Linked DNA regions of Homo sapiens. The protein of the gene in region 1 interacts with the protein of each later gene in a pairwise test. Each region holds a gene or a part of one and is shown on either strand. Other genes may lie near its edges. The genes, in order: MLLT10 and SS18.

Region 1 (3,826 bases):
TGTAGGAGATTTCTGCAGACTAGAGCTTGTTATGCTTCCTGCAGCTGATGCTACAGATGATGTTGGTGAAGCAGAAGAAACTGAGAGATGAGAAACATTCTCTTGATTTTTGTTTCCTTTGGGTCTGCCAGGCCCATGCTTACTTTGTTTATTTCCTTTCCTTTTCTTTTCCTTTACAGTTTCTTCTTCTATGCCAGAAGTTTGAGCCCGCTTATATCCTGCTGTAGGAAGGCTGGAATTACCCAAATCTCCAGGTGAATTTTCAAAGCTTTTAGGCTGTGAAGTAACAGCTGAGGTTGAAGGGAGGCCAATTAAGGTACTAAAACTATTTACCCCCCCTTCCTGGCTTCCAGACTCTCCTTTATGTACATCTTTGGTTGCTGATGACTGTTGGGAGTGAGAGTAACTGTCATTACGCAGATCTGAGTCTGTAAAGCTCAGGAAATCCTGGGGAGACTGCACTGAACTTCCAGAAGATGACTTTACACTGCCTGGAGTTCCTGAAAAACTGCCTGTAGTTTAAAAAAAAAAAAAAAAAAAAAAGTTGGGGGGTGGGGGGGACAGAAAAATTGGATGCTAAAGTTCCCATAAGCAGCAGACATGATATAATCATTAAAGAGAAGAGTTTAAAAAAATTAACTACAACACTTAGGACATTCGTATATTAAGACTTGTCAAATTTATCCCCAAAATTACCTTTAAAAACATGTGTCATTTTATAGATGGTATTAAATGTTTACTGTGGAATTGCAAGCTATTACTTAAATAATTATTAAGATATAAGATGCGCTTTATTTCACCTACCTTTTGCCACAGCAACATTCCGCAATTCTCCCCCAAACACCTCATGTATGCCTGAGGAAGGACTACAGAACAGTAGTCTCCTTTCCACAGTCATGCAAGAAGACCTAACAAGACTATAATCTGACTCTAAATGTCTAGGGGAACTTCTTTTTTGAATATTGAAGGTATGATTGAAAATGTTCCCAATATACAATAAGAACTTAAGAAGTTTCCTAGGTTATGAGTTCTAAGTTTTAACTTTAAGACATACTAGTGATTGTTATTGTTCAGCTGAATCTACCATAATAGAAAATGGATTTGACAAAATAATGATCATATGGAATCTAATCTATATCTCACATTCTCCCAATCCAATTTTCATGGAACTTCATAAAGAAATCAGCCATCACTGCTTATTCTTTCTTTAAAGAACATGAGTACCCCACCATACCATTCTAAGATATAAGAAACTTAGGCTGGGTGCAGTGGCTCATGCCTGTAATCCCAGCACTTTGGGAGGCCGAAGCGGGAGGATCATGAGGTCAGGAGTTCAAGACCAGCCTGACCAACATGGTGAAACCCCCGACTCTACTGAAAATATAAAAATTAGCCGGGGGTGGTGACGTGTGCCTCTAATCCCAGCTACTCAGGAGGCTGAACCCGTCTCTACAAAAAATTTAAAAATGAGCTGGGCATGGTGACGCATGCTTGTGGTCCCATCTACTTGGGAGACAAAGGTGGAGGCAAAAGCTAATTGAGGGTCTGAAGCAGGAAGAATGCTTGAGCCCAGGAGGTCAACCTTGCAGTGAGCCGTGATCACATGACTGCCCTCCAGCCTGGGCAACAAAGCAAGGCCCTGTCTCAAAATACACACACACACACACACACACACACACACACACACACACACTGAAAACCTGGAAAACAGGTTAGTGTGTTAACCTGTTAAACTTCAAACTTTATAACAAATGCATTATTAATCAACAACTTATTTACTGAGACCTATGTAAATCCCCTAAAAATTGTCTAGTATTTGTTTATCTACTAAAAAATGTAAACCTTGATTGTATTTATTTATTTAGTGGGTTTTATTGTTTGTTTTTGGTTTTTTGTTTGTTTGTTTTTTGAGGCAGGGTCTTGTTCTGTCGCCTAGGCTGGAGTGCAGTGGCACAATCACGGCTCACTGTAGCTTCAACCTCCCTGGGTCAAGCAATCCTCGCACTGTAGCCTCCTGAGGAGCTGGGGCCACAGGCAGACATCACCAAGCCTGGCTAATTTTGTTTGCCTGTCCAAGGAGACAGGGTCTCACTCTGTCACCCAGGCTGAAGTGCAGTAGTGCAATCTCAGCTCACTGCAGCCTCAACCTCCTGGGCTCAAGCAATCCTCCCACCTCGGCCTCTGAAGTAGCTGGGACTATAGGCATGTGCCACCATGCCTGGCTAATTTTGTATTTTTTAGAGAGACAGGGTTTTGCCATGTTGCCTAGGCTGGTCTCCAACTCCTAAACTCAGATGATCCACCTGACTGAGCCTCATAATACTGGGATTACAGGCATGAGCCACTGTGCCCAGTTCACACCCAGCTAATTTTTAAATTTTTTGTAGAGATGAGGTCTTACCACATTGCCCAAGCTGGCCTCAAGAGTTCTGCCCACCTCAGCATCCCAAACTGCTAGGATTATAGATGTGAGCCACCACGCCCGGCCAACCTTAATTGTTTTTAATGTTTAGGAAATATAAATAAAAAACATTTATGGAAAAGACACCAGGAACAGTATCTCACACCTGTAATCCTAGCACTTTGGGAGGCCAAGGCGGGAGGATCACCTGAGATCAGCAGTTCGAGACCAGCCTGGCCAACATGTGAAATCCCATCTCTACTAAAATACAAAAACTGGCCAGGCATGGTGGCATGCACCTGTAATCCCAGCTACTCAAGAGGCTGAGGCACAAGAATCACTTGAACCTGAGAGGCGGAGGTTGCAGTGAGCCGGCCACTGCACTCCAGCCCAGGCAACAGAGCGAGATTCCGTCTCAAACAAAAAGAAGGACTGTTCTACAGAACTCAAAGCAAAGCTCCAGCTTTTATTATTTTTCTCCCCAATTTTAAGCATTATTCCATATCTAGTTAAACATTAAAATTACAATTCAACTCTGGAAGCACAAATCATATTATAAAAGGAAAGAAAAAGTCCCTATTAAAAAAATTTAATAGGAAACACTATCTTTAAAGTAATCTTACTAAAGCAACTAATCATATAATAATCTAGAACATCCATTAGTTATAAGTTCAAAAACAAACCAATTATTTTACAAAGCATAACTATTATTAACCATCTTAAACACAAGTATTTTAACTAAAACATCACTAATACCTTGAGGAAAAGGGCTAGCTGCTGACACAGTTGTTCCTGGATTTCTTCCACCACCAGGCTTTCTTCCCCTTTGACCTGAGCTGTGAGCTGAAGATTTCTTCCCTTTGCCCTCTGACCCTCTAGTCTCTGAAACATCTTTTCCACTAGAGGTGTGTGCAGAGACTTCCTGGAAATTTGCATTTGTAAATCGTGCAGTAGTATCTTCCAAGCGCTTCAATGATCCAGATATAGAGTTGTTGCTAGTGCTTGTATAAGTCTAACATTTTGATTCAAAAAGGGAAGGAAAAAGAGTTGATTACATTTTAGTTACAGAAAACAATGGGTGCCACATTAATAAGAAGAACTTGCAGAATAAACACAAAGTTTCTGTTCTAAAAATAAGTCAGTTCACCTAAGAAAATCATCCAAAAACAATTTAAGTCTATTATAATTACTTTTAAAAAAAGAAAAGAAAAGAAAAAGCCTACATAATTTAAAGATGGCTGTTTCAGGATCAAATTGCAACAACTAGTAAAAGTATGTATTAGTTATATTTATGAAGTGACACAGTAATACTGAAGATACTCATTTGTCAAGCAACATCATTTTTTTTTAACAATGTCTACACTTCCTAGACATGAAATTAAAATAAGCTTTAGTATTCAACACAGGAAGGTGACAATAAGGGAA
Region 2 (3,826 bases), on another chromosome or scaffold:
ACTAGTTTATCTAAGAGCAACATTTTAAACCAACATTTTAACAGTAGACTAGTCTAAAACTGAATTTTCAAGTGATAATTCTTGTAAAAATAAGTATTAAATATCCACTTCCATATTTTAAAACAATCAGCACATTTTTTTGGTGATAAAAATACACTGTACAAAGCTTTACCGTAGCCCTGCTGCTGTCCTGGGTAACCTTGCTGCCCTGGGTACTGCTGCTGCTGGGGTGGATATCCCTGTTGTGGAGGTGGTCCCTGGTATGCATCTTGCTGTTGGCCATACTGTGAATTTCCTACAGGATAATTGGAGAAGAGGAAAAAAAACTGAGAAGTCTGCTTAAGTAACTTTTTTCCCTCTAAGATGCATAGCCAACAACACAAGAACAAAATGAAATGCCATATTGATTTTTAGAAGTTAACAAAACAAAGAAAAAACTCAAACCAAACAGAAGGATTTCGGCCAAACAAACTGCAGTTAAAGCCAATTTTGCAAGGTTGAACTGCAGCATTTTCAGCGTCTCTGCCATACGAGCATTACATTTACTGGAACATCACAGTCATAAGATCATGACTATGCTAAATAAAATAAAAAAGACAAAATTAAAGACAGCTACAAGAGCACACACTAGCTACACGAGATCAGCAAGCTGTTTCCTAAAGGCACTATACTTATATGTAAAATTATACATATGTAAACACACACGAGAAAAAAAAGTTTGATGGATTTATGTTCAAATAGAAAATTTCCACTGAGGAAAAAATTATCTTTAATGTTTTAGTCTTTTTATTATTGTTAGAAATGGCAAGTCATGGTTATACATTTTAAATATTTGTAAGGAAATTATTTTGATTGTTTTGGGCTCCCTGCAACTTTCAAGAAAGCCAGCAACTAGTATTCTACAAGAGCTTTGCATGGGTAGAAGTTGTCTTATGCAAGAATTTTCATTCCTGTAGAAGGGGATATATATGTGTATGTGTGTGAAGGTATATAGATACCTCCTTCGTAGTAATGTTGTGAGGAATCCTCATAAGGCCTATCGTAGCCTTGTTCAGGATACGACGGTTGCTGATAACCGTAATCATTATGACCTACATCAATTCGACAAGAGACAGGAAGAAACGTTAATGGCCACTGAGTGAAAACCCTAAAAATATTTAAACTTTCAGATAAAATTGAAAAAAAAGAAAAAGAAATGGAACATAAAAAATAATTTCAATTGCATTAGCCAAAGATTTACCAATGTGATTGTTTTCATATTGAGATAACGTGCAAATTTTTTTAAAAGCAAAAAGCAGTAGTTTTAGAAACATTACACTTATTGTCTTAAATCTGATAATCCTCATTGAGGGAAAAAAAACTATCTCCCATTTAAAAAAACAAAGAGAATAAAAGTCTTTCACATGTAAATAACCTAAATTAAATTAGAATGAACAAAGGAAGCAATTATCATATTTTGTCAAACACCTGTTCTGCTGGTCTCCAATTCCACAGCATATGCTAAAAACAATGCAAAATATAAAAGAGTTCCATAAGTTTTTCCCCTGAAAGAAACTGAAAAATTTTCAAGTTCTAACATTTACTTGCATAAAGTTAAGTATCTCAAAGTATCTTCAGATGCAAAATTATATATCTTAATGCTGCCATTTTGGAAATCTTTAGAAAATATTTCAAGTATCATAAACATACATCTTCATAAAATTAATATTGTGTTGACAGAGTATATCTTTAGTTTTAAAGCACAATAAATTTTACCTGCGAGATAATTGGACTCTAGTGAAAAATACTCTCACTCTTTTTTTTAAAGTTTCACTAAGAAAATGTAGGAAATAACCTTTTAGTTACCTAAAATCTAAACTCAATTTTACAAAAATGCCTAATTAAGGACACAGGAATAAAATTACAAATGAACATTATACTCAGTGCTCTAGTATTCTAATGTTCCCAAGCCACCTCATAAATACCTACATGAAGGGTTGGCAAACTATGGCCTGCAGTCTTAATATGGCCAGTGGCAAGTTTTTGTAAATAAAATTTTATTGGAATACAGTCATGCCTATTCATTTCAGTATTGTCCATAGCTGCTTTCATGCTACAATAAGAGTTCAGTAGCTGAGACCAAAACCATATGGCCCACAAAGACTAAAGTATTTATTATCTGGCCCTTTACAGAAAAAGTTTGCCAATTCCTAATCTATATATTTACTAACATAAATATCCGGACATGAGAGAAAAGAGCCAATGTTGTTTACAAATATTAATTGTCGACATAAATAGAATACTCTATGTAAATGTCAGATATAAAGTAATATACACCTATGCAAAAATGATACCCTTCAAATTAAAATCCACTAATAAAATGAATTAAAGTAACCTTAATGTTTTGATATTTACAAAATAACAAACCAATATATTTTGAACAGAAAGGTTATAACAATACACATGTCACATTTCAAGAGATACCCAGGATCAAAACAACAATGTCAAATTTAATTCTTTAAAATGTAATTAAAAATTAAAAAATAGAAACAATCATTTATTTTCAGCAGACTTCTTAATACATATAATTTAACAAAGTAGATTTCACGTCTTTAAAATACGTAGAGTCTACAACAATCTTACTAAAGTTTTTAATTTAAAAAAATCTTAATACCATGTTTACATATGAAAAGAAAAAACAAAACAAAAACCAATGTCCTTAAGTACAAATGTACCTTTATGTTTTATGTATTAACAAAAAATGACAGGTGAGATGTTTTTTCAAATATCCTAAATTGTATCTTCTTGCTAGCTTACATGGGCTGCTAGTCAATGGCTGCTAATACTTTAGCTTTAAGTTTCTTAGTTTCTCTGTTCAGTAATTTATATTTACATCAAAGGATCATATACATGAATAAGGCTTTTGGCAAACCCTAACAACCCACATCATTTTGTAATGTATTTCTGAATTATTTTTTCTTCTACACTGTATTATAAAATTTTCAAGCATACAGAAAAATTGATGAAACTGTACTGTGAAAACCTACTTGTATGCTTGGATTATTGCTATTCAAATTTTCCTGAAGTACAGTGCATCTTACTAACCAATTTTTCACAAGCCACTTTCTACAAAAAAACAAAAAACAAAAAACCCTAACTAAAAATCTTATTTCCAAATTGCCTTTCCCATTCTACTCAATCTCTATATGGCTATATTATGGATATAATTTAGTCTCCCAAATTTTTCTCAAAGGCAAGCACTAATGTAAACCTTAGTTTGTTGAGAAGTATGAAACATTAATTAAAATGATGAGACTTGGAAAAATAACTTGAGAACTATATACTCTATGTATTTGTACAATTAATACAAGTCAACTAATGGGTGAACTTTATGGCAGGTGAATTATATCTTAATGAAGCTCTTATTAAAAAAAAGTAAATCAATAAACATAAGCTTTGGCTGAAATCAAACAACCCTAAACATATTACAAAAAGATCCTTTTACATAAGGATTCCAATGACAGACTGTGATTCCTGATGGTACTAATGGAACACCTAAAATATACTTTGAATTAGATTATAAACTAATGCTATCATTGGTACTTTAGAGTACTGAAGTGTTTCAAAATTTAGAGGAAACAAATTGTTAGTTTCTTCGTCCTCACTGAAATGTTTTAAATAACTCTCTACATTAATATTAGGCAGGGATAGAAAATGGGAAAGTTAACATCAGGAGAGATTACCATCAGGGTAATATTGCTGGTTCATGCCTTCTGGAGGACCTTGTCCACCATGACTGTATTGGTCCCCGTAATAGTCTTCCTGGCCTGAGTACTGCTGTGGTGGG

What was found.
Region 2: the proteins of MLLT10 (region 1) and SS18 interact in a two-hybrid assay, tested with the Homo sapiens proteins (one study listed by BioGRID).

Annotation. Positions count from the first base shown.
Region 1 is NC_000010.11:21,670,036-21,673,861, reverse strand, and holds part of MLLT10 (protein AF-10), read right to left. Parts: intron 3,414-3,826; coding exon 3,158-3,413; intron 513-3,157; coding exon 1-512. UniProt on the Homo sapiens protein: Probably involved in transcriptional regulation. In vitro or as fusion protein with KMT2A/MLL1 has transactivation activity. Binds to cruciform DNA.
Region 2 is NC_000018.10:26,034,833-26,038,658, forward strand, and holds part of SS18 (protein SSXT), read right to left. Parts: coding exon 3,723-3,826; intron 1,092-3,722; coding exon 999-1,091; intron 296-998; coding exon 173-295; intron 1-172. UniProt on the Homo sapiens protein: Appears to function synergistically with RBM14 as a transcriptional coactivator. Isoform 1 and isoform 2 function in nuclear receptor coactivation. Isoform 1 and isoform 2 function in general transcriptional coactivation.